2 linked regions of the Homo sapiens genome follow. The protein of the gene in region 2 purifies or fractionates together with the protein of the main gene of each other region. This does not show direct contact. Each region holds a gene or a part of one and is shown on either strand. Other genes may lie near its edges.

Region 1 (3,658 bases), on a different chromosome or scaffold from region 2:
GTGAGGGAAAAAAATCACATACATAAAAAACTTGAAATTATTTAGCAATTAGCTATTATTTTGACTTATTTGTGTTGTGGCTGCTTTTCTTCAATCAATAGTAGATAATATTTCCCACTTCCTGAAAGCCCACTCAGATTGCCTGAGGAAGTGAGCCACCTCTAAACTGATTAGAGAATAACTTAAACATAATTAATTGCAGATGATATTCATCACTGTTTGTACAATGCTGAAAGAGCTCACAGTCCTGTTTGTATATAAAACATCCACAGACAAGAAACTGGATCCCCGGCCTAAAGGGTTTACAAAGTAGAAACCAAGGAGGAACCAGAAAGAGAGATGAGACAAATCCAAATCTCCGATCAGGAGACAAATTTAATTATTTGGGCTATGTCATTGCTAAAAGGTGATGCTAAAGAGTTGTTTTTTGTTTTTTGTTTTTTTTTTTTGAGACGGAGTCTCACTTTGTCACCAGGCTGGAGCGCAGTAGCCTAATCTTGGCTCACTGCAACCTCCGTCTCCCAGATTCAAGTGATTCTCCTGCCTCAGCCTCCCAAGTAGCTGGGACTACAGGCACACACCACCACGCCCAGCTAATTTTTTGTATTTTTTGTAGAGATGAGGTTTCACCATGTTGGCCAGGATGATCTCGATCTCTTGACCTCATGATTCGCCCACCTTGGCCTCCCAAAGTGCTGGGATTACAGGTGTGAGCCACTGTGGTTTTTTTGTTTGTTTTTTAGAGGGAGTCTCACCCTGTCGCCCAGCCTGACGTACAATGGCGTGATCTCGGCTTATTGCACTCTGCCTCCTGGGTTCAAGGGATTCTCGTGCCTCAGCCTCCCAACTAGCTGGGATTACAGGCACACACCACCACGCCCAGCTAATTTTTGTATTTTTAGTAGAGACAGGGTTTCACTATGTTGGCCAGGCTGGTCTCGAACTCCTGACCTAAGGTAATCCACCCACCTCAGCCTCCCAAAGTGCTAGGATTACGGGCGTGAGCCACCACACCTGGCCAAAAGGGGTTTTCTTATAAAGCAAATACAATATTTTTGCTGTGAAAGGAAGATGTTCCAAACTGAAGAGATTAAGCTGAATTTATACTATGCCTACAAAAGGTACAGATGTATACATGCCTTAATTGCTTTTTACTTAAAATCACTTATAGTTGACTAGAAATTATCCCTTTAAAAAAATTTTTTTTTCTTTTTTTAACAGAGATGGGATCTCATGATGTTGACCAGGCTGATCTCCAACTACTGGCCTCAAGCAATCCTCCCATCTTGGCCTCCCAAAGTGCTAGGATTACAGGCAAGACCCACCTCGCCCAGCCTAGAATACATCCCTTTTAAAGAAAAACATCTATGAAATTATAGATGGCTAGAAACAGAGTACCTGGTGAGACACTGTGGGTGAAAAGCATAGTGAAAAAGAATCTATTGTATATTGGGCCCCAGGTTTTATATATACAAACAGGTAAATAAACAAAATACTCAACTAATATTTTCCTTCTATGATATACAAAAGGTTGTATATCAAGTCAGTCATTTTTCTAAAAATTCTGGCTCTTCTATTGTATGTGCATTATTAGGCATGCTCAAAAGGCAGCATTTTAATTTTGCAACAGATCCAAACTTATACATCCCAATGACTGGTGTCCTTCCCTTTAGCTAGTAGCTCTGTAAATCTACATCCTAATTATGATATTGTTCAAAGAAGTTTTGAAACTCCTAACTCGAATCTACCCTCAGAGGTTTTAAGATAATGTTTTAATCCAAATCCTAACTCGAATCTACCCTCAGAGTTTGTAAAATATTGTTTTCATTCAAGTGAGGTCTGACTACAATGGTTACAATTTGTGTAATTTGGAAACTGACCTAAATAATATAAGAGTTCCAAACATATTTAAGAACCATCAACTGCAGTAGTGGGAAAATCTAAAAGCAGCACTACTGGAAAAAGTTTTCCAAGATGAGGATATTATGTAAATATCTAATTCCAGCCTATATGCCCAGCACTTGCTTTTTTTTTTTTTTTTTTTCCTATAGACAGAATCTTGCTCTGTCACCCAGGCTGGAGTGCAGTGGTACGATTATAGCTCACTGCAGCTTCGATCACCTGGGCTCAAGTAATCCTCCGCCTCAGCATCATGAGTAGATGGGAGTACAGGCACGTGCCACCAGGCCCAGCCACTTTTAAAAAATTTTTTTACTCAAAGCCCTTAATTTTTCTTGGAATCTTTAATCTTCCAAGACCTTCCTGCAATGATGTTAGTTCAGTTCAGCCCGTGTTGGAATAATATGGGGCCTCCCCACTCCTCTCTTTAATCCCCTTTTGTGAAAATCTACATTTAAAACTACCCATTTGGATATAGGTTTAGAATGCTTTGCAGTTTCAAAAGGCTTTCATATGTATACTTCATTTTATACCTCCCTTCACCCCATGAAGAAGGTAGTATTATTTCCTTATTACAAGTGAGTAAATGAGATTCAAAAAGGTAGAACATGGCATGGTGGCTCACACCTATAATCCCAGCACTTTGGGAGGCCGAGGCAAGTGGATCACTTGGGCTCAGGAGTTCGAAACCAGTTTGCGCAACATGGCAAAACCCCGTCTCCACCAAAAAAAAAAAAAAAAAATAGCTAGGCATTGTGGCACATGCCTGTAATCCCAGACACTCAGGAGGCTGAGGTGAGAGGATCACTTGAACCTGGGAGGCAAAGGTTGCAGTGAGCTGAGATGGCACCACTGCACCAGCATGGGTGACAGAGTGAGACCCTGTCTCAAAAAAATTAAAGTAGAACAACTTAGGTGTACATGGTTACAAGAAAATGTAATAGAAATAAATTTAAGAAATAAATTTAAATTTAAAATTTAAAGGATAAATTTAAATTTAATAAATTGAGTTCCTTAATTATATTTTAAGACAAATTTTACTTTTTTCTCATTACAATGGACAATAGGTACCACTTCTACCTACAAGAATTATAAACATAGGCCAGGCATGGTGGCTCACGCCTGTAATCCTAACACTTTGGGAGACAGAGGCAGGAGGATCACTTGAGCTCACAAGTTTGACACCAGCCTGGTGAGGGAGACTGAGAAGTCGGCACTATGAGGAAATGAAGCCATGTACCCTGAAAAGTGTAAATTTGGAAGAAAGCTGGATGACCATCTTGAAATGCTTGAAAGGATATTGTACAGGTAGTACTAAATTATGACCCCTTTTCACTAAGAAAACAATGGGTCACTCAGGAAGCACTAAAAATGCAGTTCTACTAAGCAGAAAAATGCAGGGTGCCCTGGGTCAGCATGCCAGCCAAGTTCTATACTGCAGGACAAGTCCAAAGCTCCTCCTTTAAAAAGGCTCCTGCAGGCAACATGCCTGCACACTAACGTGCAGAAAGGGACTGTACTACTCAAAACCACCAAGGAAGTGGCAGAGGTAAGTCAACATCTAATCCTGCCACTCTGTGTGGCAAAGAACGCTGGGAGCAAATTACTTCTGCTGCTCTTTGAAGGCTGTGCCAGCGTCACCTGGATAGCGCAAAGGAAACAAGAGAAAGGAACAGAGCCCCTCTTCTGGCCTCTGGGCTACCATACAGAAAAGCAGGTAACTGGGGAAGGACAGACTTGTGCGTGGAAACAGGCTAAT
Region 2 (3,658 bases):
GGTGTGGAAGAGTTCACATCTAGGAGAATGACAACAGGCATTCAATAGAGTTACAAAGAGGTTTTTTTTTGTTTTTTTTTTGAGATGGAGTCTCACTCTGTCACCCAGGCTGGAGTGCAGCAGCACGATCTCGGCTCACTGCAATCTCTGCTTTCCGGGTTCAAGTGATTCTCCTGCCTCAGCCTCCCGAGTAGCTGGGACTACAGGCGCGCACCACTGCGCCCAGCTAATTTTTGTTTTTTGTTTTTTCTTTTTTTTTAAGAGATGGTGTTTCACCATGTTGGTCAGGCTGGTCTCCAACTCCTGACCTCGTGATCCACCCACTTTGGCCTCCCAAAATGCTGGGATTACAGGTGTGAGCCACCGCACCCAGCTTTTTTTGCTTTTACATCTTTGTATTGTTTGACTTACTCTAAGGAGGTTGTATATTACTTTTATAATTGGAAGTAAAAAAATTCATAAAGGAGACAGGTGTGGTGGCATGTGCCTGTAGTCCCAGCTACCCAGGAGGCTGGTTGAAGTGGGAGTATCACTTGTGCCCAAATTCAAATTCAGCCTAGGCAACATAGTGAGACCCCATATCTCTCTTTTTTTTAACTTTTATTTTAGGCTTGGGGATACATGTGAAGGTTACATAGGTAAACGTGTTAAAAACCACAATTATTTTTGCACCAACTTAGTATTTCATCACCCAGATATAAAGCCCAGTACCCAATAGTTAACTTTTCTGTGCCTCTCTGTCCTTCCACCCTCCCTCCTCAAGTAAATCCCAGTGTCTGTTGTTTCCGTCTTTGTGTTCATAAGTTCTTACCATTTAGCTCTCACTTCTAAGTGAGAACACGTGGTATTTAGTTTTCTGTTTCTGTGTTAGTTTGCTAAGGATAATAGCCTCCAGCTCAACCCATATTCCCACAAAAGACATGATCTCATTCTTTTTTATGGCTGCATAGTATTTCATGGTGTATATGTACCACATTTTCTTTATCCAAACTGTCATTGCTGGGCATTTAGTTGATTCCATGTCTTTGCTATTGTGAATAGTGTTGCACTGAACATTCGCATGCATGTGTCTTTATGGTAGAATGATTTATATTCCTCTGGGTGTGTACCCAGTAATGGGATTGCTGGAGACCCTATCTCTTAAAAAAAAAAAAAAAGTATATATACACACACACAGACTCACATAAAACCCAAATATATATATTAAATTATTAAATATATTATTCTCCCCAAAACCCAGCCATTTATATATATATATTTATATAATACTTAAAAGCCATTTATATATATATATATATATATATATAAATGGACCTCAAAGGTATCTTTCACTCTTCTTCCTTAGTATCTTGGCACATGTTGTGCCTTCTAATCCATTGTCTTGTTCCACTTACTCCCTTATGCCTATATATATATATATATACACACACACACACACACACACACATATATGGCTTTTGAGTTTTTGTTTTTTTATATACATATTTATATATACATATACATTTATATGTATATGAATATATTATATATTTTGTATATGTATAAAATGTGTGTATATATAATAGATATGTGTGTGTATGTATATAAAACAAAAAATAATAAATACTCAAAAGACATTTTTTCCCAAAGATCAATAAAGTAGTCCTATCTACTTTATACATGTAATATTAGGCATGTATACCTGTAGATAAAATGGAAATAGGAGATATTCCAAATGGCATCAGGTATATTATACAAGTAAATTTTAAAAATTAGATGAAATGGCCAGTTTACCAGAAAATATTGAAATTTGGCTCTATACAAAAATGAAAGACTAATAAAAATTTTTAAAAATTGATATAGCTATATTCTCCCAAAAACTCACCCAGATAGTTTTACATGTTTGGTAAACGTCTGGTTCACTCATTCAATAGATACTTTTTAGTGCCTATTATGCCCTTAAAAAAGTATTGTTGTTCTAGGCTCAGGGTTTATTTTCTAGCTAACATTTTTTGAGTGCTTATTTGGTGCTAGATACCATTCCTTTTACATGTATTAGCATATTTATTCTTCACAATAATATATAGTGGGGAGCAGGTGATTACTGTTAAAGTATAGAAACTGGTACAGAGAGGCTCAATACCTTGTGGCCAAAACGATCTTTTAAAAAACACAGATCGAGTTAACCTGCTTATAACTATTCAGTGGCGTATTACTGGTCTCTGCAAAAGACCCATATCCTTAACAAGGACCTAAAAGCCCACAATGATTTGGTTGCTGTTGCTACTGACTTCTCTAAAGTAGACTTGTACCACTTTTCTCTCTCTGTATCCTATCTTTCAGGACCTCAAAGGTATCTTTCTCTCTTCTTCCTTAGTATCTTGGCACGTTGTTGTTCTTTTTTACCCATTGTCTCGTACCACTCATTCCATTATGCCTAGTGAAAGTCTGATAATTCTGTAGATCTTAACTCTACTTCTGGATGTCTTTCAATTTCCAGATAAAATGAAGTCCTCCTACTGAGCCCACTCATAGTCTTATGAACTTACCTTCATTACCCCTAGTAAATATTTTGACATGTATTTGTGTAATAATTTGATTAATTAATACTTGATTGTATGAGGGCACAGACTATACACACACACACACACACAAACATATATATATATATTTTTTTGAGGCAGGGTCTCGCTCTTGTCACCGAGGCTGGAGTACAGTGGTGTGATCACAGCTCACCATAGCCTCAACCTCCTGGGCTCAAGTGATCCTCCCACCTCAGCCTCCCAAGTAGCTGGAACCACAAGTGTGTGCTACCATGCCTGGCTAACTTTATTTTTGGTAGAGATGGGGTCTTGCTATGTTGTCCAGGCTGGTGTGAAACGCCTGTGCTTGAGTGATCCTCCCACCTTGGCCTCCCAAACTGTTGGGATTACAGGTGTGAGCCACTGCACCTAGCTGATATTTTCACTCACCATTGTATCCCTAGCAACTTGGATAGTGCTGACACATATCAAGCACGCAAGAATGACTTAAATTTCTAAATGGATTATCTATTTTAGTCATAAGATACATGAATTGGCATTAAAGTTTTCAAGAACCTCTATCAATATAATGTGAGGCTAGTCAATTATCCAAAAAGTATTCTCCTAAAACCTAAAAAGTAAGAAATTAGTAAAATTTTCAATAAGTAACCAAGGACAAAACTAGATTGTTCTATAAAATTTTAAAAACTAACTTTAAGACAAAAATTAGTAGGATGTAGTTACTGGGAAATTAAACAAGTTGGGAAATACAAACAGGGTGGAAGATGATAGTTACCCTACACATCTCACCAACACTGTCTAGGATTACAGACAAATGATTTTACCTCTTTCCTTAATCAAAACAAATTGTTTAGGGAGAATGTTTTAAAGGAATAGTCCCAGCCGGGCGCGGTGGCTCACACCTATAATCCCAGCACTTTGGAGGCTGAGGCTGGCAGATCACTTGAGATCAGGAGTTTGGGACCAGTCTGGCCAACATAGTGAAACCCCGTCTCTACTAAAAATACAAAAATTAGCTGGGTGTGGTGGCACATGCCTGTAATCCAGCTACTCGGGAAGCTGAGGCGGGAGAATCACTTGAACTCGGGAGATGAAGGTTGCTGTGGGCCAAGGTCGCGCCACTGCACTCCAGCCTG

Evidence for each region. The genes of interacting proteins can lie anywhere in the genome.
Region 1: the proteins of TMED5 (region 2) and LONP2 purify together in Homo sapiens (co-immunoprecipitation; one large-scale study listed by IntAct). This does not show direct contact.

The regions. Positions count from the first base shown.
Region 1 is NC_000016.10:48,247,272-48,250,929, reverse strand, and holds part of LONP2 (lon protease homolog 2, peroxisomal), read right to left. Parts: intron 3,617-3,658; exon of another isoform or gene 3,391-3,616; intron 1-3,390. UniProt on the Homo sapiens protein: ATP-dependent serine protease that mediates the selective degradation of misfolded and unassembled polypeptides in the peroxisomal matrix.
Region 2 is NC_000001.11:93,173,895-93,177,552, forward strand, and holds part of TMED5 (transmembrane emp24 domain-containing protein 5 isoform 1 precursor), read right to left. Parts: intron 1-3,658. UniProt on the Homo sapiens protein: Potential role in vesicular protein trafficking, mainly in the early secretory pathway. Required for the maintenance of the Golgi apparatus; involved in protein exchange between Golgi stacks during assembly.